Linked DNA regions of Homo sapiens. The protein of the gene in region 2 interacts with the protein of the main gene of each other region in a pairwise test. Each region holds a gene or a part of one and is shown on either strand. Other genes may lie near its edges.

Region 1 (8,010 bases), on a different chromosome or scaffold from region 2:
GAGAAAAATCTAGCATAAAAACAGATACAAAATATCGGGGGAAGGCTGTTGTTTTATACACAGTAGTTAGAGAAGACCACAACAGCGTAGGGGAAAGGAGATTGGAGAAAGGGTGAGGAGATGAAGTCAGAGAGGAAGAAGAGACTTAAATCATAGAGCCTTGTAGACCATAGGAGTATGGAATTTACTATGACTGAGAAGGGAAGCCATTTGAGAAAAGAAGTTACATGACCTGACATTTTATCAGGATCACTCTGGCTATGGAGTGTTAAAGACTGTAGATCAGCAAAGGTCACAGTGACTTTTTAGGAAGATATTTTTGAAAGCAAAATAGTGGTTGTGTTTTTACGTTATGTATTGAATTTTTATGTGTCTATGTACTAGGATTTCATACATTAAGTTCATAGACACAACTTAAAAAAATACAATGCAAAGATGAGTTTTGGGAATAGCAAGAGAATGATACTGGATATTTTAACTCTGGGCTCTACTCAGCACTACTAACAGTTATTACTGCTCAGAAGCAAGACAAGGTGCAAGGTTATTAACTTATTTTGGGGGACAGAGTATAATTAAAAATCTGGATTTTAAGTTTATTTCACTGGGCAAGGTAAGTCAAGGTACAATTTACATCTTAAAAGACAAAAGCAGGTGATAGCAGGGCTTGCTAAAGGGAAGTTACAATGAAAATTATTCTACAGTTGACTTTCTTTTTATTACTTTTATGCCTGCTACTCTCTTTAATTAAGGTGCTACAACTATCTCTGATATACTTTAAAAGTTCAGTATTAAGTTGATGGGTAGTATAGTACTGTATTTTCTGATTACTAAAAGATGTTACTGATGATGAATCAACAGTATCATGTAACTGCACTGATTCATCCTATCTCTGCTGAATAAAAGCACAGGTTTTCCAGAAAACTGTCTAAGCTCTAGTTGGTGCCAAAGGACGATAGAGAGCTAAGTAACTCCTGAAAAGTTTCGATCTTAACACACTAGCCCTATTACCACATGAAGGTATTAACAGAAAAAATTAAAAAATTATCCGTAAAATTTTCTCCATGACATGTTTTCTGGCAACATATTTAGAAACTTTAAATTTTCTTCTACAGTTTTCTTCCCCTTTATACTGAAGAATGTCTTTAAAGCATGAGTATACTTACAGTAAGCAAACATTCAAATTTTACCCCAGTGAAATCTTAAAATGTACTCAAACTCTCAGGCAAAAAGTTCACTATCTGAATGTGAAAAACTGAATGACTGTTAAAATATCTGCAAGCACCAAAAAATATTATAGCTAAAATGCAGCTACCCTAAGAACTGTTTTTAAAAAACTCACATTGCATAAAAAATATAAATTCAGATTATCCGATAGGATAATATAAAACAAAAGAAATCCAAAGACAGTTTCAAGATTTCATTTCTCTTGCTTAGTTAAAACAACAAAAACAAAAGGCCCATGAACTTTTTCTTGCATCTTTTAACCAAAATAGTGACATGATCAAGCCAACTGCCAAAGAAACAGGAAAGAGAAAGCAATTGTTTAGAAACAGACTTGATTACATGTCAAAATTTTAATACAATTACTAATAAAATACAAAAACCAACCGTTATTTTAAAATGTACTGCCCTGATATTCTGCTGCTGAGGTAGGTGGTGATATGTAGAAATTAATTTTTCTTTTAAAACGAAAAAATAATGCATTTATTAATATGCTTTTCCCAAAATTCGGGGAAAATTCCCAAATCGGAGAAAAAAATTTAACATCAGCATCTACTACACAAAGCATTAAAAACATTTTTCAGCAGTTTTGCTTAAGTATCTTAGGTCAGTGGTAGCATGTTAGCCAAAATGTAATCCAAAATGAATGAACAACAGTCAGCTGGTAGACACTGTATGTAATACAATACGGAAATATATTGGAAGTATTTCAAAATTCAACATTTGAATCCGTGAATGTCTAAATCAAGTACTCTAAATCAGGCGTCTACTTTTGAAACAATACTTCAAAATACGTGTTGGTGGCAAGACCGCCAGCCATCTGTAGGAAATCTTTTTAATGGTTCAAAATTCCTAGGTCTCAGAAGGGGCGACTGATTAGGCTAAATTTATATCTCCCGGCCCCGTAGTTGTCAGCCCAGGTAGCGAATTTAAAACACTGGGGGTGGATGAGTAGTTTGAAGTTCAGATCAAGGAGTGAAAAAGGCTGATGCTTAGAAGCGCCGGCTCTTCCCCATTCGCGCACTCGAGAGGTCACGGCGTAGTAAAGTTTGGTTTCACTAGCGGGCTTGGACGCTCGCGACCAAAGTCTCCCAAGAAAAGCCGACACCGCGGTCGGGAGCGCCCGGAAGCTCAGCAGGACACGTTTCCACTGCAGGGAGGAGGGTGTCTGTGGCGGTTCTGGCGTGGAGCCCCTTCCCCCCCCCCCGTAGGACCCTGCACCCGGACGGGGACAGGCTTCGCCAGCTAAGGCGGCGGGAGACGCGTAGGCCACAAGGAGGAAATGGGACAGAGTGCGACAGAGAGGCGGCGGCGGCCCAGGGCCGGGCCGAGCCTCCCTCGCGGGGCAGCGAGAGGGAAAGGGGCCCTCCCGGCCGCAGCCTCCCCCACTTCGAGAGGTAGCTCCAACTTTCCTCCCAGCGCACGACGTCGCACGGGCCGCGCGAGATTCCGAAACTTTGTCAGCCCTCGCGTCGCCCTAGGCCCGCTCCAGCGCTCTGCGCCGGCCGCTAACCCTCGTCTCTCCCAGACAGCTGCCCAAGCCCATCCACCCCGCGGGTCGACCAGTGTTTACCTCAGACCGAGGTCGAGGCGCTCGGTCCGGCCGCGGCCCCACAGTAGGTTCCCAGGTCCCAGTCACTCCGCTGCCAAGTTCCCCAACATGGACTCCTTCGTCCGCTTTGTGGTGTTACAGGGTCTCTAGGACACTGACTCCGCTGGCTCGGTCCGGAGGCGGCGGCGAAGCAGGGAGCGACCCAGGTTGCGCTGCTCCGCGCGGCTTAAGCCACCGCTACTCCCCCTTCCCCCGCCTTGTCTAGCCTCCTCCCTCCCCTCCCCTCCCTGCGCGTCTCCCTCCTCCTCCCTTCCCTCGCTGTCGGCGCGCTAAGGTGACGACGGCGGCAGCCGGACTCGCCACATTCTGCTTACTCGCTCGCTCTGGCCCTGAGTGCATGTTCGTAGTACCCAGTTGGGCCGCAGGGGGGCGCTGGCAAACTGCTGTTTGAGACCGAGAAGCGTGGTGGGTGGAGTCACGTCACGCGGCCTGTGAGCGGGAGGAAGGGCAGCTGCGCTGGAGGGGCCTTCTGGGAAACGTCCTTCCAGCACCGCCCTTCGCCCACACTGCGGATGGTGCGCATGCGCAGCGCGTGGACTTTGGCCTCTGCCCTCCTTTGGCAGTTTTACAGGCTGCGTCGCGGAGGACAATGAAAGAGGCTTTAAGGGAACTGGACAGGAAGGATTTTGCGCAGGGTGTGCTCCTTATCTTTATGGTAATCTGATATTGAAAAGAGTGTCCGCATGTTTGCGGTGGATTGAGTGTTCACCTGGCTGCGCTGCCCACCTGAAATGCAGCCTGTGGAGTGAAGAGTCGGCAATTTGGAAGCCCACCTTTCCTCCTTTCTGGTGGGCATTTTTTTAGATGCCAGGGGGAGAGCTTTCCCGCCTGACTCCCCGAGCCTAGGGGCTTTCCCATGTCTTAACCCCACATCACAAAATTAAATTTGGGCCAGGTGCGCGGTGGCTCACGCCGGTAATCCCAGCGCTTTGGGAGGCCGAGGCTGGCGGATCGCTTGAGCTCAGCAGTTCGAGACCAGCTTGAGCGACGTATTAAGATCTCGTTTCTACAAAAAATAAAATTAACCGGCCGTGGTGGCGCGCACCTGCGGTCCCAGCTCCTCGGGAAGATGAGGTGGGAGAATCGCTTGAACCCGGGAGGCGGAGGTTGCAGTGAGCCGAGATCGTTCCACTGCACTCCAGCCTGGGCGACAGAGCGAGACCCTGTCTCAAACAACAACAAAAACTTTATCATTATTTACTTAAAAGGCCTCCGCGTTGTGGTTAGATAGTGACGTGTGTGCCATCCTCCACTTTTTCCCCCGGCGGGTTGTTAAATGTTTTGTTTTACCTCGGAGGTATTTTGACTTTTTCAAAGTCACTGATTATTTAACCTCCTAGTTTCTCTTCTCGTCGACTGCAGCAAGCTTCCGGTTGCTCTGCCTGCCCTCAGTGTCCCCCATCTACCAGCTGACCTTCCAGTCCTCCCACCCACGCCCTTGTCCTGCTTGCGGCTCCCGCAGGACTAAGCTCTGCTCCCCGCGCGCGGCTCACCCAGGTCCCAGTCGCTTTCAGCCGCGCGCTCACACGTTTTCCTGTCGCCTGCCCCCGTTCTGTTCGCGCGTGCTGCGCTCTCCAGCCACCCTGACGCCTGCCCGGGATGAGTTTCCTCCCCACTTTGCCGCGGCCCCGCCGACCGACCGCTTCACTGCCGCCTTCCTGCATTCTCGCAGACTACGTTGCGGCGTCCCCTGCTCCCGCCCTGAGGACGTCGCTTTTCTGGCACTTTCATCCTATGCATTCTGTTGAGTCTGCTCACTGTCTCACACTGTGAGGATTGGGACAGTGTCTTATCACTTTCATAACAGCGTCTGGCACTTGCTGAAGGAACACATGAATGGCGGTCTTGTCGCTGTCAAAGTCTTTGGAGTTTTTCAGTGTACTGTTTTTGATATGGGGTTTGGGAATTTAGGTGGCTTTACTGTATTTGGGATATTTGAGGGGAAAATGAGCTAGAGGCGTTAAAATGCTTTCTTCTGATGGAACAACAAAATTCTTATGAAGGACCTTTCCCTGTCAAAATCAGAGCAAATAGTAAAGGATATATACTATTTGGATATAAAGAATGATTATAAAGGATGATTGTTAAGAGAAATAGTGAAAATTAGTGTGGAAAGCTATAACCAGATCAACATTTATGAGCCATCCAACAGAATAAGGGTGTAGCTTTTTTATGTATACAATCTCTAGGATTCACTCTAGAGAGTGTAACTCCTGATATGGACTCCTGGTGCAACATGCTTCTGTGTATGTTTTATATTTTAAAAAATCTATATATATTTAAAATCTAAATATATTTTTAAAAATCTCAGTTTTGTTTTAGGAAAGTGTTTTTTCTCAAAATTTAAGCCCAAATGATAAAATCTGCCAAATAGAAAACTATTTTAAATTGATAATAACAGTATAGTTTCATCAAAACTAAAAATACCAGATCTTTTGATGTATTTGTTTCCTAGCAGAGAATTAAGTTTTCACGTTCTTACTGTTGGCCTCCTAGATATCATGTGAGCATGTCTTAAGGAAAAATGCTCTTAATGCCACTGTGGTTTCTACCTTCATGTGCAAATAGAAGAGAGTGGTGGTTTGTAATAGGCCATTCTTTCCAGAGAAAAGTTCATGTGTATTTCTGTATATGCAGCATCCTCCTTATTATGTTTGGATGTAAAGATTTATTATTCTCTCTGATGTTTTCATATTTTTTAAATTTACAATATAATAAAGAGGTACAGAGTTCTAAATCAATAAAAGATGGGCTATAAAATGGAGGAGTAAAGTTGATATATGAACCATCATTGTCAACATTTTAGATTTGATTTTAACTGTAAAAAGCACAAATGATATGCATCATAAAACAGCCTTAAACTGAATGTCCACTTGGTGTGTTGCACTTTACCAGGCACTTAAAATATCAGTCCTGTCACATAGCAACAGAAACCCACAGTGGCACGTTTAAAAATGGGTAATCAACGTATTGATTTTGATGGAGCTTTTTCAGAAATAACTGCTATTTTAATTTAACTTATAAATAGAATACAATATCAAGTTCAAATTAAGGGAGGAAATCATGCTGTAAATATACTGGATTGAAAAACATGGTTCTGGCCAGGCATGGTGGCTCATGCTTGTAATTCCAGCACTTTGGGAGGCTGAGGTGGTTGGATCACTTAAGGTCAGGAGTTCGAGACCAGACTGGCCAACATGGTGAAACCCCATCTCTACTGAAAATACAAAAATTAGCCCGCATGGTGGCATGTGCCTGTAATCCCAGCTACTAGCTACTCAGGAGGCTGAGGCAGGAGAATCACTTGAACCTGGGAGGCGGAGGTTGCAGTGAGCCGAGATGGCGCTACTGCACTCCAGCCTGGGTGACAGAGTAAGACTCCATCTCAAAAAAAAAAAAAAAGAAAAAGAAAAAAAAGAAAAACATGGTTCTAATACTGTCACTTAACACCTTTTCAGTTTTGAATAAATCACCTAACTTTTTGGTCTTTAGTTTCTATAAGAGGACATTTTTATTTTAATGATCTCTGGCATTTTTATGGCAATAAAAATGTGTGAATTCAAAGGACATACTGTCTGAGCAACATAGTGAGACCTAGTTTCTACTAAAAATAAAATTAAAAAAATGACCAGCTGTGGTGGCGTGCACTGGAAGGATTGCTTGAGCCTGGGAGGTCAGGGATGCAGTGAGCTGTGATCACACCACCACACTCCAGCCTGGGTGACAGAGCGAGACCCTGTCTCAACAAAAAGGGGTGATGTAAATTTTAAAATTCATGTAAGGAAAACATGACCAAATATACAATATCCACGTGAGGAAAAAATAGTTTGCAGGAATTTTTTTAAAAACCAGTGGTGGCTGGGCATGGTGGCACACACCTGTAGTCCATCTACTTGGGAGGCTGAGGTGGGAGAATCGTTTGAGCCCAGGAGGTTGAGGCTGCAGTGAACCATGATCATGCCACCTCACTCCAGGCTGGGCAACAGACTAAGACCCTGTCGCCAATAATAATAATAAGAATAGTTATTTCATGTCACAACTATGAAGTATTTTAATCAGGATGATACTATCCAATTATTTTCCATGTGGAATTAAATTTATTTCAGCAACAATTAATTGGACATCTATTTGGGAGGTGCTTTGAGCTTGTATATAAATGAATACAGTGTCTCACAGACAGTATAGTGGTTTCAAATATGTACAAAGACAAAGTTGCATTCCTTGAAAGAAAATAGAAAACAAAAAACAAAGGAAGAATATAAATATAAAAAGAATATAAAATAATAAAAACAAAGCCTGGGGAGGGAGATGGAATAAAAGAAGGAGAGAATAGAAAGGAAACTGTGATGATTAATTTTAGATGTCAACTTGACTGGATTAGGAATACCTAGAGAACTGGTAAAACATTATTTTGGGGTATGTCAGTGAGGGTGTTTACAGAGGAGATTGGCATGTGAGTCTGAGTGGACTACAAGGGGAGGATCCGCCCTCAAAGTGGGCAGGCACTATCCAATCAGCTGGGAGCCTGGGTAGAACAAAAACAGTCTCTGTCTTCTGGAACTGGGATACACTCTTCTCCTGGCCGTGGACATCAAAATACCAAGCTCTCTGGCCTTTGGATTCTAGTGCTTAACACCAGCACCCCTGCCATCAGGTCTTCAGACTTGGACTGAACCACACTCCCAGCATACCAGCATCTCCAGCTTGCAAATAGCCTGTTGTGGGACTTGTTAGCCTCCATAATCACATGAGCCAATTCCCCTAATAAAGCCCCCCTCATGTGTCTATATATCCTATTAGTTCTTTTTGCCTCATATCTAAAAATAGTTCAAATTCTAAGACTACTTCTTCATTTCAGTTTATATTTACTCTTTTTAAAGGTAATAAGCATTCATTTTAACAATTTAAATAACACAGAAGTATGTAAAATATACTCAGAAGTAAATAAAGAAAAAGACTGTTTTCTTCTCCGTATCCCAGTCCTAGACAAAACCAATGTTAAAGATTGAAGTTTCTCTCAATACTTATTCTAATGTTTTAAAACACTTGGAAGTTTTCATTTGTATATTTACAAATAATCACGCCATATATATTTTTCTTCAACTCTTTCTAACTCAGCAGTTAATTATAAATAGCTCATTCTTTCAACTAGCTGCATAATATTATGTAGAATTAAT
Region 2 (7,000 bases):
TCCCAAAGTGCTGGAATTACAGGTGGGAGCCACTGTGCCCAGCCAGGATCAAATATTTTTAAGAGTAGTTGTGAACTGATCCTTGTTTAAAAAATTGTTTACAAAATGGTTACATGGGTTGGTTGTACCTTTACTTTTATGTGTTTGAAATACTCCAGAAAGTGAATCACTTACTATTTCCCTTTGTGTTAATAGTGTCCTGTTAGCTGGCTGAGTAAGGCCTGAGTATTGACCTCCATGCCCCCACCCCCCTTTCCTCATATTTGGAAGTATAATGGGAAAAAGGAGCTGAGTGTTCACTGTAAAGCTGCATGAAAGGTTGGTCAATTCAAGCAGGTTGTAGTAAAGTTTTCCAGGGCCCACCTCTTCCCAGTCACTCTTCAAATATGATAGCTTATCTAAATTTAATGACTGGTTGTATTAAGGGTGAGGAATAATGGTCTTTTTTTTTTTTTTTTACTACTGTGAGCTATAATTTCTTTTTTTAAAAAAATGTATATTTATTATTTAAAAAATAATACAGACGACAGTCTGTGTTGCCCAGGCTGGCCTCAAGCTCCTGGGCTCAAGCCATCCTCCTGCCTCAGCCTCTCTGAGTGCTGGGATTACAGGCATGAGCCACCTCACCTGGCCACAGCTATAATTTCTTCTGTGCTGACTGTTGAGGGGAGAGGGTGCTGTAAAATGGCCAAAATGGTTCTGTCTTGTCTTGAACTGATTTTTTACTTGGAGTGGGGCAGGGGGAGACCAATAAATACAGCCTGGTAAATAACTGAAATAAGTGCAGGGACTTCAAGGGAAGAAATCATAATGAAGATACAGGAGAACTTGTTTTTCAAGGATAAATGGATCTTCACACTTAAATTGCAACTGTTAACAAATTAACATTGAGCTCAGTAATCAGACTGGCTCTAACAATTAGGTGATAAAATAGAATTTGACTTCCTTGTGAATTGGTACTTTAGAAAATCCTATTTGTTTAATTTGAAATTAATTGAAATTTTAATTTGAAACTGGGAAACAAGCTTATTTTATTTTTCAAGACAGAGTCTTGCTCTGTCCCCCAGGCTGGAGTGCAATGGTGTGATCTTGGCTCGTTGTAACCTCTGCCTACTGGGTTCAAGTGATTCTCCTGCCTCAGCCGCCTGAGTAGCTGGGATTACAGGCATGTACCACCACACCTGGCTATTTTTTGTATTTTTAGTAGAGCGAGGGTTTCACCACGTTGGCCAAGATAGTGTCGAACTCTTGACCTTGTGATCCGCCTGCCTCGGCCTCATAAAGTGTTGGGATTACAGGCGTGTACCACCGTGCCTGGCCAAAGCTCATTTTATATTAGTAAAAATAAGGGAGCTAGAAATTTGATGTTAAATTGCACAGACACTTAGGTGTGTTCTTTGCAGAATAGCCAACTGAGAGTACTTTTGGCTTTAATACGCATGTCAGAAAGTCAGGCTGTTTTAAGTTTAATATCTTTGCCCCCTCAGAACACTATGTGGCTGCCGTGTAAGAGTGGAACTGTCGAATGGTGAAAAAAGAAGTAGAAATCGTGGCCCACCTCCCTCTTGGGGTCGTCGCCCTCGAGATGATTATCGTAGGAGGAGTCCTCCACCTCGTCGCAGGTACTTGAGAGAAAGCTTGTTAAGAGGTATTGGTGTAATGGAGTAGCTAGTAGGAGCAGGTATTTCTCTTAAGTTTGTTGGTGGGTTTTAAACTTTGGAAGAATCGGAGGTTTCTGTGAAACATTTGTTGGGTGTAATTTGGGGTATGTGAGTTGTGCTGAGTGTTGGCTTTTGTCTTTAGGTCACTGTTCATGTTGGTAGTCAGTAACTTCTATCTTGGATCTGTCTTCTAGTTCATCTTTCTAGTTGCATCTTTCCAAATCTTCCCTTATACTTCAGTTTAGGCCTTTTTCCATTTCTTGGCTCCATAATGACAAACATTACATTCAACTCTAGCTCTTCACAAATTTGTGTTTTCTACTATTAGCACAATTGTAATATTTATCAAACAGGCAGCTGTTTTAATGTTACAACTGGTAAAGTAGAAATCATTCTGAGACTAACTTAAGTCACTGACCAATAAAGGGGGCTAAAAAAGAAGTAATCCCAGTCATCTGTTCTTCAATCCCAAATAGGAGAAAATTCAGTTTTTTTATAATTGAAAATGGCATCATTCTTGGACCAGGCAGTATTGTCTGGGTGCTAACTCCACATCTCCTCAGACCTCCAAAATAGTTTCTATAGGACTAAATTTACCTCTTACAGGTGAGTGGAGTCCTTCTAGGAGACAGGAGTTCAAAATCTTGCCCCTTTTGCTATTTTGAAAAACAACAGCACACTGTTGCCCATCATAATAAAGAGTATTTGTTAGCTAATAGATGGTTGTACTGATGGCTTGTTTTTCATTTTTTTTGTGCTTTTTGGTCCATCTATTAATAAAAATGAACCCCGTTACAGAGTCACCATCATGTCTCTTCTCACCACCCTCTGAATCTGCATTAGCCAGTCAACTAGCCCTTTCAGCGTCATGTGACCAGCGCGCCCCATTCAGCTTGGCTGGTGTCGTTTCACATGACCCAGGCTGGCCAGTCGTCAGGTTGCACCGCCCTTTGGTTCCCGAGCATGCTGTTTTCTCTCAGCCTTCTCTCCAACCTTAACCAAATCGGCAGCAGCCACCTCGACCGCCCACACATTCCTGGCCAATCAGCTCAGCTGTTTATTTACCAAATGTCTTCACAACAACTACAGCAGCAGCCTTCGGCTAACAAAAAAGCAGGAAAAATCCACAACACCCCCTTCGCCAACCAACTAAATCCAACGCAACATCTGGCAAAACCTTTTCAGCAAATTCTTCCTGGCCGTCAGTCCGGCAGCCTCACCTCACCATTTCTAGCTTGTTGAAACCCAAAACTAGTAAGTTTTTCCTGCTTATACAGTTTACTGCTGGTTAAAATAAGGAGTAAGCGGCTTAAAGTAATTCTTTTTTCTGGATCAAAGGCTGGCTGTGCATAATTGAATGGTAACGTACATATATATTGCTTGAAAAACTTTTAAGGGTGATAGGGAACTCGTAATGTAACTAGGCCTTCAAGTGAAACTTATTTGCATGTGCAAGATGCCAAACTAAAAATTTTAATATCTCTAACAGATTAGCTTTTCTGGCAAAAATTTGTTGAATCCTATCACCTTTAAATGGTTTTACTAACAGTTTCAAAATTTAAAATTTTGGGGTTGAAGTGTGGGCCAAGCTAAGGTAATTTTGGTAAGCCTAAACACACTCTTAAATGTGACGATCACAAATGCAGTTCTAATGTAGCACTTAATGGCATCAATATTTACACCTACCGCGTTTTCACAAAATTACACTATCCACCTGGTACCTAAGTCTTGTCATGGACTTACAGGTTTGCATGGGTTCCAAATACTGGTTTATGGTACTGTTTTTGGAACTACTTGTGGGACTATATTTTGGTGTGGTGTTTGGGTAGTGAAGTTAGTTTGACATGAAGTTTTGCATTGGACAGATCTGCTGTGAAGCATTCTTTGTTAAAGTGAATCCATGGTTGGAATACCTGCTTTTCACTTGAGCTTTTTGTTTCTTAATCCTTCTGTGCCTTTTTTTTCTTTTCTTTTTTTTCTTTTTTTTTTTTTTTTTTTTTTTTTGGACGATGGGTGCCAGTTCTTCGGCACATTCACTGGGCCCAACAGTGAGATTGAAAAGTTGGGAAATGCCTCACGCCATAAATACTAATTGATGATGAGCCTAATTTTCCTGTTTCTGCTTTTAGATCTCCAAGAAGGAGAAGCTTCTCTCGCAGCCGGAGCAGGTAAATGACTACCTTTTTTGGCTACGTTCTTAGAAATGGCAGTGTTTCTGCTATTCCTAAACTTTTCCAGGTGGCTTAGTTAATGGGAATAAACCTTGGCTTTAATAGTGAATCAAGTTGTAAGGATGAGTCAGCTTTCTTTGAGTTTTCAAAGGCTTTTTAGAAAGTATTTAATTTTTTAAAAAAGGATCTGTCACCCAGGCTGGAGTGCAGTGGTGTGATTATAGCTCACTGTAGCCTTTAACTCCTGGCCTTGGAGTGATCCTCCCTCTTCAGCCTCCTGAGTAGCTTGGACTACAGGCAAGTACTGCCATACCTGGCTAATTTATTTTTTGTGGAGATGGGATCTCACTTTGTTGTCCAATCTGTTCTCAAACTCTTGGCTTCAAGTGAGCCTCCTGCCTCTGCCTCCCAAAATATTGGAATTATTGGCATGAGTCACCATGCCAGATCAAGAAAATATTTATGTATAATTTTATCATACCTCATTGGTCCTAATGTTTTTTTGCTTGTTTAGGTCCCTTTCTAGAGATAGGAGAAGAGAGAGATCGCTGTCTCGGGAGAGAAATCACAAGCCGTCCCGATCCTTCTCTAGGTCTCGTAGGTAAGATCTTTGATAACTTGTATTTAAGACTTTGCATACATAGTATGCTAAGGCCTGTCTTCTAAGCCATAAATTTTTTACCTTAAAGTTCTATTTCGATATGTCACTAAAGTGTCACCAAGTTACAGATGTAATGTTTTGTTTTCTTTTTTTTTTTTTTTTTTTAGTCGATCTAGGTCAAATGAAAGGAAATAGAAGACAGTTTGCAAGAGAAGTGGTGTACAGGAAATTACTTCATTTGACAGGAGTATGTACAGAAAATTCAAGTTTTGTTTGAGACTTCATAAGCTTGGTGCATTTTTAAGATGTTTTAGCTGTTCAAATCTGTTTGTCTCTTGAAACAGTGACACAAAGGTGTAATTCTCTATGGTTTGAAATGGATCATACGAGGCATGTAATACCAAGAATTGTTACTTTACAATGTTCCCTTAAGCAAAATTGAATTTGCTTTGAACTTTTAGTTATGCACAGACTGATAATAAACCTCTAAACCTGCCCAGCGGAAGTGTGTTTTTTTTTAAATTTAAATACAGAAACAACTGGCAAAAATTGAACTAAGATTTACTTTTTTTTCCATAGCTGGGATATAGGCTGCAGCTATAGTTGAACAAGCAGTCTTTAAAAACTGCTGTGAAACACAGGCCATCAGGGAAAACGAAATGCTGCACTATTAAATTAGAGGTTTTTGAAAAATCCAACTCTCATCCTGGGCAGAGGTTGCCTAGTTGGTATAGAATGTTAAGTTTCAAGAAAGTTTACCTTTGCTTTAGGTCATAAGTTCCTTATTTGATTGCTGTATATGGATACATGGCTGTTCGTGACATTCTTTATGTGCAAATTTGTGATTTCAAAAATGTCCTGCCAGTTTAAGGGTACATTGTAGAGCCGAACTTTGAGTTACTGTGCAAGATTTTTTTTTCATGCTGTCATTTGTAATATGTTTTGTGAGAATCCTTGGGATTAAAGTTTTGGTTACAAATTGTTCTTTAACTTGAAAGCCTGTTTTTCCTTGCAAACTCAAATCTGTGAGCTTGGTACCAAGTCCAGGTATAACATTCCTATTGGAAGCCATACTTATATTTTCTTGTAAAGTGCTTTTGAATTAATAAAATATTAGCATAATTGTGTATAGTCAGTTGAACCCACTGTTACCATTGTTCTTATCCCATGGGAAGCAGTTGGTTACACGATTCTTATTTTATAAGAAACAGCTGAGAGGCACTATGGATTAGTCTTCTGAAGTGAAGGAAATATAGATGTCACCTAAGTGATAGTTAACCCATTTTTTTTTTTTTTAGGCATAGAAGCCAGTTCAGGGTCCATAATATTTAGTGACCAACATTTTAAAGTATAGCAGCAACCTGGTTCTTAAACACAAAGTAAGTTGCCCATTAACAAATGGCTTTTATCTTTAGCATGAAAACTTTCCACAGGTCTAAAAATTGCTTCCATTTTATAATTTGAGGTGTTGCATGGGAATTCTAAGCTGATCCATCATGATGTAAAAGTTCACAATATGGTTCAAATGTAACAGTGCAGAATTGAATATGGAGGCATGCATAACCTTCCTCTTAGAAAATGGCAGGTGTTGTAATTTCAAATTTTTGTGCAATTAGATTAAATCATAATGCAACAGTCTTGTGGCTTAGTTTCCTTAAATATGCTCTTAAGATAGTTTTGGATTATGCGGTATTGACTGTCTTAAATATGAAAGATAAGTCATTGCATTAAGAGTTCAAGCTAAATGGATACATTAAGATACAGTTCCTAAACAAATTATTTATTTCCACCTTTTACACAAATCTTGGGAGAATTGGTGTCAGGAAGGTTCAGCCTTAAAGTTAAGCATGTTCAAGAAAGACACTTTTCAGACAGCCTGTTTATTTACTGAGAGCTCTGGCATTGGGCATTTTGTCTTTAGTATTCTCACATAGCCTACAACCTGTTCCTGTTAGGAACAAGCCAAGATAGCTAAGAAGTTACGGAAGCCATGCAATATGTCAATTACATTGCTTTTTATAAATGGACAACTTATGTGGGCATTTTTGGGCAGTATATGACTTCCTTGCAGGCTCTTAAGTTGGAAGGGTTTCTGTAAAAAGGACAGTTACGGGTATAATATGGCTAAGAGAAATAATACAGAACCTGAAATAAAAGTAACTTCACCAGGGAGTTATCCTGACTTAGGTGACATACAGTCCCAGTTGGCAGTTACTTTAACCAGGAGCCCTAGCATAACCTCAAGACTCTTAGAAACTTTAGAACATGGAAATTGTTAAAAGCTTTGAATTGCACATTTAGATTGTGGCTATTAGGAATTTTTAAAGTTGTAATTCCTAAAATAACAGGTCACACTAACCGGTCTTGTCCATATTCAGGGTTGAGTGTAAAAATGAAAGGAATCACAAAACTGAACTTAGACCTGTGGTTTAAGGATCAAGGTGTTCACTAGAAGTCACTGTTACTAATACTTGATGACAATGTAAAGAAACATTAAGGATTATATTTGATTGTTTTCAAAGACACTGGCTGGATGTGGTGGCTCACACTTGTAATTCCTAGCACTT
Region 3 (7,045 bases), on a different chromosome or scaffold from region 2:
AGATACCTTTCCAGTGACCTGAAGAAGTGTCTAGAGTACCAAGTGTCCATTAGGAATGATGAGAGGCAATACTGAGATTAGTCTGTGAAAAAATTAAGTAACTAAAATACTAGGAATATATGATATGTACATACATCTTCATATATGTTTAGTTTACAAATATATGTGGTATATAACAGGGGACTGATTTAGTTAGATTTCAAGTTTGAAGGAAACCTAAAGGATAAGCTGAAGGGAAAGATAGAGAAAATAGAGGCCTAAACTAAGCCCGGTAGTGGGAGTTAAAAAGAAAGGATGAATACAAAATTTCTGCATTAAAATGAGTGGTACCGTTTGTCCCTCAGTATCTGCAGAGAATTAGTTCCAGGACCCCCATTTACCAAAACCTGGGGATGCTCAAGTCCCTTATAGTTGAGCCTCTGTACCTGCAAATCCCTGCAGGTACAGAGGACCAACAGTATTTGGACAGCAGTGAATAAAGAATCTGGGCAAGGGCTGGGCATGGTGGCTCACACCTGTAATCCCAGCACTTTGGGAGGCTGAAGCAGGCAGATCACCTGAGGTCAGGAGTTTGACACCAGCCTTGCCAACATGGTGAAACCCAGTCTCTACTAAAAGTACACAAAATTAGCTGGGTGTGGTGGCGCGTGCCTGTAGTCCCAGCTACTTGGAAGGCTGAGGCATGAGAATCACTTGAACCCAGAAAGCGGAGATTGCAGTGAAATGAGATAGCACCACTGCACTCCAGCCTGGGTGACAAAGTGAGACTCTGTCTCAAAAAAAAAAAAAAAAAAAAAGAATCTGGGCAAGGAAATGAGTGATACAGCATCAATGCAATAATTTTTAAATATTTTTGAGGTTGGCTACTTAACCTTCTTTCTTACTCTGCGTGCACACTTAATTTTTCAGTAGAGGATGGAATCTTTGTATCTTCTTCAATGCCTATTAGATTTTATACATACTTGCCTCTTAGTATCATCTCTAACAATTTTCTGTTTGAAATTTAGCTTTTAGTGATTCAAGAATTTATCATTCAAAATCCCCAAATACAGTGACCATAAAGAAGGTGGATGAGCCGCTGGTAGATATCAGAATAATCTGGGAAACTTCCCAAATACTACCTAGAACCTAGAAATTCTGCATATCAGCAGAGGGGAAGAATAGGAGTGTCAGGCACGTGTAGTTACAAAAGAACTTTCCAGGTGACTGAGTCCTATCCCTTGCCCAACACTGGGAACTAAACTCCTCTAATTTCTTATTAGGAAAACAGAAAATGTACAGCAAATCTTCACTAGAAGATGACTTAGGATTTCATGGTTTCTATTCAGAGGACTTTGTAAATTTAAGAATCATATTGGAAAGACTTCCTCTGGTTTTGCAAGGACATGGGAAATACTGTCACAGGTTGAGATTCTAGGGTATTTTAATAATGTCCCGATTGTTTTTGTGGTTTCTCATATGCAAATCCTCCAGGCAACAAGGACATAATTATGGAATTAAAATCTTAACCCTGGCATCCAAAAAGCTAACAAAGGAGCAAGTTATCCTGTTTATGTTATATATTTCACAATTCTGGATATGTGGTTCCCAGCCTATCCCCACCTAAGGATACCCATTTAGTACTTTACCTAGTAAAGCATATCACAATTAAGGACCCACAAAATGCTGTCTTAGATTCCGGAAAAGTAATATTCTTTCCAAAGAATATGAAATTTTAAAAATGAGAAATTAAATAGTAACAAAAACCTCCTGGTTAATGTTAATTATGTGGAATTTTTCGTTAGTCATGTGTTGAGATTATCAACTGTTTGGCTATTGTTTTAGTACCACTAAGTAGAGATAAAGCTAGTTTATTCAAATAAAGTGACACTGCAAATTTAACTATGTTGATAACAAATCATCAAAAAGGTATCTTTGGATTACCTACACGCTTTTTAAAAAATGAACTGGCAAGATTGTTGCAATTTTCCACCTACTGTGTACTTCTGCAAAGCAATAAAGTATGATTTTACTCGAAATCTAAATCTCCAATGTTCAATATTTTATTACAAATTGGGCAAGATCTTTTTTCGAATAGCATGTTTGATGGCACAATACGACAGAATAGCATATTCAATGGCACAATTAGTAGTAAAAAAACAAAAAACCTGCCTGACGTGCTTCCGGAAAACGTAAAATAGACTGTATATACAGTAATTCTTTTCATAAGACAATGACAAAATGTCAGAGTTGTAATTGAGGACTTTATTAACTGAACTATACTTCTGATTACAACATTCTGTGTATGTTAATAGTTTCTCTGGAGAAATTACGGGCACAGGAAGTTCCTCTCATTAAGGATATTAACATAAAGCTTAATATGAAAAATTAGCACTCAGTTCAGAAATGACGACTTCAGAAATGACTTCAGAAATGACGATTTGTATGATCTTTTCATTCCTCACAACCCAGTATTAAAACTATCTAATATTGCAAAGGATGGTAGTGTTCCACTTCGTTTTGCTATTCAATTATTGCTGATAGATACATGTTTTCAAAAAGGCCATTGGCATCTGTTTGCTTTCTCCTACTTCTCCAAGTGAATACACCCTTCAATATGTAGTAAATACATATGTGGAGTTATGTTTTGAGATTTTTTTGAAGGATTTGAACCAAACTGTTTAAACAGCTGGTAGCCTAAAACTGGAATATTTCCCACAAGGGAAAAATAATTATTTGGGGAATGTATGTTACCACAAACTCATCTGACTTGGAAAGTGCGCCTTTACACCAAATCAAATAACTGAACAATGGGATTAGAAACTTTTAATTATTATTAACCTCGGCCACCGGGCGCCGTGGCTCACGCCTGTAATTCCAGCACTTTGGAAGGCAGTGGCAGGTGGATCGCTCGAGCTCAGGAGTTCAACACCAACCTAGCAACATGACAAAACCCCGCCTCTACAAACATAAATAAAAAACAAAAATCATTAACCTTGAGTGAGTCAAGTTCATCTGCAGACTGAAAAAAATAAAGTGTAACAGAATTTTGATTTAAAAAACGCTTTCAAAAAAGCATTTCAAAATGCTCTAAGTATGTTTCAAAAATACACTTAAAAATATGTTTCCAACACACTGAAGGGATTTAACTAAGATCCACAATTACAGTTACGATACAAACTGTAAGCTAAAAGGCAGCAACTTAAGCTGAGACAGTTACTAACATCCCTCGAGCAGCGTTTTTTGTTGCGATTCGGCGCCGCACCCGTCACCCCGCCCTCCGGGGAGGAACCTAGAAAGGAAGGGTGGTACATTTCTAAACCAGGCCACCCACACATGAATCAAGCGGCATCACAGGCTGTCAACAACCGGGTCTCTATTTTCTCTCCTCCTCCGGCGCCCCGCCCGTGCGGGACATCAGCTCCCAGGATGCGTCAATCGCAGATCGCCCAAGCGTAAGAGGTGGCGAGAGGCCACCACGGTTGCCCAACAGTTGCGTTCCCAGGCTGCCTGGTGTGACGCAGCAGCCCCCGCCCGGACCCTGAGGCCTGGCGCTCCGACTGAGCCGAGGCCTGTGCTACCCGACACTCCTTGCGACCCGGCCCCTTAGGCTTATTCAGCGCGGCCCTTCCCGGCTTCCCGAGTCCCATCGCAGTCTCTCCCCACCCCCGTTCCTCCCCGGTTCCTTGTCAGTGTCCGCCGCGATGTCCTTGCGCAACCATCCCAAGTGACATTAGCGCCCATACCCGCACGGAGCGAGCCTGAAGCTCCCACTTCCCGGAATTCAACGCCGGGCCGCTAAGGGCGGGCACCCAAGCGAGGATCAGCGGACTAAGGCCGCGACCAGAGTCCAGCGGTCTCCGCGCAGTCAGAGTCCGACAGCCTCTGCGCATCCGCCGTGCGCACTCCCATTCGTGCGCGTGCGCGCACTCGCCCCCCCCGCCCCGCCCCAGCACCAATCGCTTTTTTCCTACGCCCACGACCCTTCAACGTAGTCCCTCCCGCCTCCCGCGCGCGAGCAGAAAGGCTTCGGCGTGCGCGCGCCCGCCCGCCTCGCGCTCTGTCGGGAAGGGGAGTGAGCAGAGGCGCTTACGTCGCGCGGGAGGCGGAGGCGACGGCGACCTCGGTGGCGGCGGCGGCTACGACGGAGACGGTTGCGCTCGCTTGCTTTCTCGGCGTCATGGCGGCTGCCGGGGGCAGATAAGCGGAGGGAGCGGGAGCGCGCGCGCGACGGCGGCGGCGGCGGCGGCGACGACTGGTTACTTATAGCTCTTGCTGCCCTCGCCCTTGGTGCTTCAATAATGAATTGTTAGCTCCACTCCGCAGGGGATCGCGCGTTGGTGCTGCGGACCGGGGCTTCCCCTTCCCCTCCGCGTCTGTCCCCTTCCCCCTCCCCCGCACGGACTCTTGCTTACCCCGAGACGCCGGAGCCCTAGGACTGGGCGGCGGAGATCCCGGGCCTGGGCGCGGGGGAGGCCGTCCACCCGAGTCGGCTCCCTCCGCCCCGCCAAGCCCGCCGGTAAGAAAGGGGGCGGCGGGCGGGTCAGGATGTGGCGGAGAGGACAGGAACCGGCCGGGCGGAGGGCGGGCGCGGCGCGGTGCCCAGGCGGCGGCCCAGCGGCCGGGTGAAGGCCGGGTGGCTCTGTGAGTGCCGGTGGCGGTGTACGGGCCTGGCGCGCAGGGGGCGTGTGAGCGGCGAGTACAGGCCGGGGCCGCAGAACGCATCCTTGCGCCGGCCCGGCGGCCCTGCCCCGGCCTCTTCGGCTTGGTGCCGACCGGGCCGCGAGAGGAGACCCGCGAATGGCTAGCACTTAGCCGGTGCGTGGGTCCTGCCGCGACCCGGGCTCCCAGCACGTGGGGAGCGGCGGGAGGGGGAGGGGGCGGCGGCTCGGGCGAGCCTGGGAGGGCGCGGGGCGGGTCTGCGGGAAGTTTGAGGCGGGAAGAGGGACTCCTGGACCGGGATGGAGGCCCTGGGAGAGGGGGGCAGGTCCGCGAGGGAGGCTGATTGGAGCGCGCTGGATGGATGAGTGAGGATGGTTTCCAAACCTCTTTCGAGTGCCGCTTTAAAAACTTAGCAGGAGCAAAGCAACTGCTAAAAGACAGAGGATTGAAGAGGTTTAATAACTTAGGGTAGTCATTGTGGAGACGCTTGAGAGGACACAGCGCTGTGTGCGCTTGGAGCTTCAGAACTCAGGGTTGTGAAAAGGGTCTCAGAGGACTTATTCGGATAAGGGAGATGGAGGGGAAAGGAAGTTAAAATGTACAGAGAAAGCCATTTTGAGGGACGAAAGGAAGGTGAAAAGGAAAGAACGAAAAGGGGAGTGAACTTTTTAAAGGAAGAAACGGGAAAGGCAGTTTGTTAACATACTTAGATTTTTTAAGACTTAATTGTTCAGTAAGGCACTTTGACTAGGGTTGAGATTAATATTTAACATTAGGAATAAATGTTGAGTAGAACGGTTACTTTTTAGATAACCTGTTCTTGCAGAGTCTACTGGACAGTAGTCTAGAGAATTAACATCCTGATCCAGATGCAGACTTTGCTATCATTGAGTTGGTAACAATCTGTTTCCCTCCCTCTCTTGTGGAATGGAAATAATCGTAGGAGTGAATTCTCTTTGCTGAGGTCGGAGGACAGCTCTGCTCTCAGTTGGCTGTCTCGGTACTTTCTGGCTGGGGAAGGATCTGACGTCTCCTTCCCCCGCTTCTTCCTCTCCCTCCCCTGCCAGAGATCTCCTTTGTTTATTCGTGGATGGCTTGTAGGTGATTCTTCAGTGTTGTACTGAAATCTTTAAAGGTGGAAATGGTGTGTCTTGGTTCATTATTCTTGCCCCAAATTTTTTACGTAAAAAATCAGATATAGTGTATATTCTATTACCTTTTCAATTTTTTTCACAAAATAAAAACCAAGTGCAAACTGGTTAAGTATTATTTAAATGTTATCATCCCACTATCCGTTTACCTGTTAAATAACACATTTATTTTGAGCTATGCATTTTTGTTGAGAGTATATGGTATCTTTTATTTGCCTGTTCCTCCCATGGGAGCGTTTTCAGAACTTTCTCACTCAAGTGTATGAAGTTCTTGGTGATAGGAGTGAGGGCTTGATTAAAGGTAACCTCCTCCCACCCCCCCCCCCACTTCATTTATTCGACCAAGTTATCTAATAAGACTCCGTTATCTACTCTTGGGATGTATGCATATGTTACATCGTATCACCTTGCTTTAGGAGTCTATAAAAACATTGTTAGTTGCAGTTAGTCTCTAAAAATCCTTTCACTCCACAAATATTTTAATTTTTTCTGTCCGAAGTATATTAGCAGTAGCATACTAAATTCTAGTTAGCAGTCAGGAGTGTAGTTATTACAAGTCTAGATATTTTAAGTATTTAATAAAAGGCCCCCACTTCTTCCTTAACAGCTGTAGTCTAATTGGCCTACGTAGATTTATACGTTTTAGACAGGGCTTAATTTACCTTTTTTCTGCAGGAAATTTTGTTAATTTATTAATATATTTTCTTTAGGTGAATCAAAGGAGAGTCCCAGAAAACCTGTGACTGTTGAAGAAAATTCATCTGTGAATTTTTATATTCAAGGAGTCAGTATTTATATTCATCTTTTAAACTGGGAAGATTTATATTTTACTTTAAAACTTCTTGATAATAATTTACAATGAATGGACACAGTGATGAAGAAAGTGTTAGAAACAGTAGTGGAGAATCAAGGTAAGTAAGCACTTTGTTATCAATTGTTTACTATGAAGAGAGTTGAAAACTTGACTTTTTTCTTTATTGTTATTGTTGTTATTTAGTTTTCCTCATAGGTAGCAGAGTTTTCAGGTTTTCCTCTTAGCTATCCAAATACTAAAAAAATTCTGATATACGAACCTTTTTTCATAATACAGGTTTTAATTATATTTTTCATTCAGATACACAGTAGATCTTAAATATAGAAAGTTTTTGTTTACTTAAATCTATTTGGAAGTTTATATTTGAGCTAATAATTAAGCTGGAGCATGTATAATAGATTTAAATTGTTTTGACTGTTAGTGAAATTTCTAGATGAAG

The links. The genes of interacting proteins can lie anywhere in the genome.
Region 1: the proteins of SRSF3 (region 2) and SCAF11 interact in a two-hybrid assay, tested with the Homo sapiens proteins (one study listed by BioGRID).
Region 3: the proteins of SRSF3 (region 2) and CHD1 interact in a two-hybrid assay, tested with the Homo sapiens proteins (one study listed by BioGRID).

What each region holds. Positions count from the first base shown.
Region 1 is NC_000012.12:45,987,559-45,995,568, forward strand, and holds the start of SCAF11 (protein SCAF11), read right to left. Parts: upstream 3,017-8,010; 5' UTR 2,795-3,016; intron 1-2,794. UniProt on the Homo sapiens protein: Plays a role in pre-mRNA alternative splicing by regulating spliceosome assembly.
Region 2 is NC_000006.12:36,597,362-36,604,361, forward strand, and holds part of SRSF3 (serine/arginine-rich splicing factor 3), read left to right. Parts: intron 1-1,487; coding exon 1,488-1,622; intron 1,623-2,459; exon of another isoform or gene 2,460-2,915; intron 2,916-3,790; coding exon 3,791-3,829; intron 3,830-4,346; coding exon 4,347-4,433; intron 4,434-4,600; coding exon 4,601-4,628; 3' UTR 4,629-7,000. UniProt on the Homo sapiens protein: Splicing factor, which binds the consensus motif 5'-C[ACU][AU]C[ACU][AC]C-3' within pre-mRNA and promotes specific exons inclusion during alternative splicing.
Region 3 is NC_000005.10:98,925,992-98,933,036, reverse strand, and holds the start of CHD1 (chromodomain-helicase-DNA-binding protein 1), read left to right. Parts: upstream 1-4,029; 5' UTR 4,030-4,498; intron 4,499-4,505; exon of another isoform or gene 4,506-4,797; intron 4,798-6,502; 5' UTR 6,503-6,650; coding exon 6,651-6,703; intron 6,704-7,045. UniProt on the Homo sapiens protein: ATP-dependent chromatin-remodeling factor which functions as substrate recognition component of the transcription regulatory histone acetylation (HAT) complex SAGA. Regulates polymerase II transcription.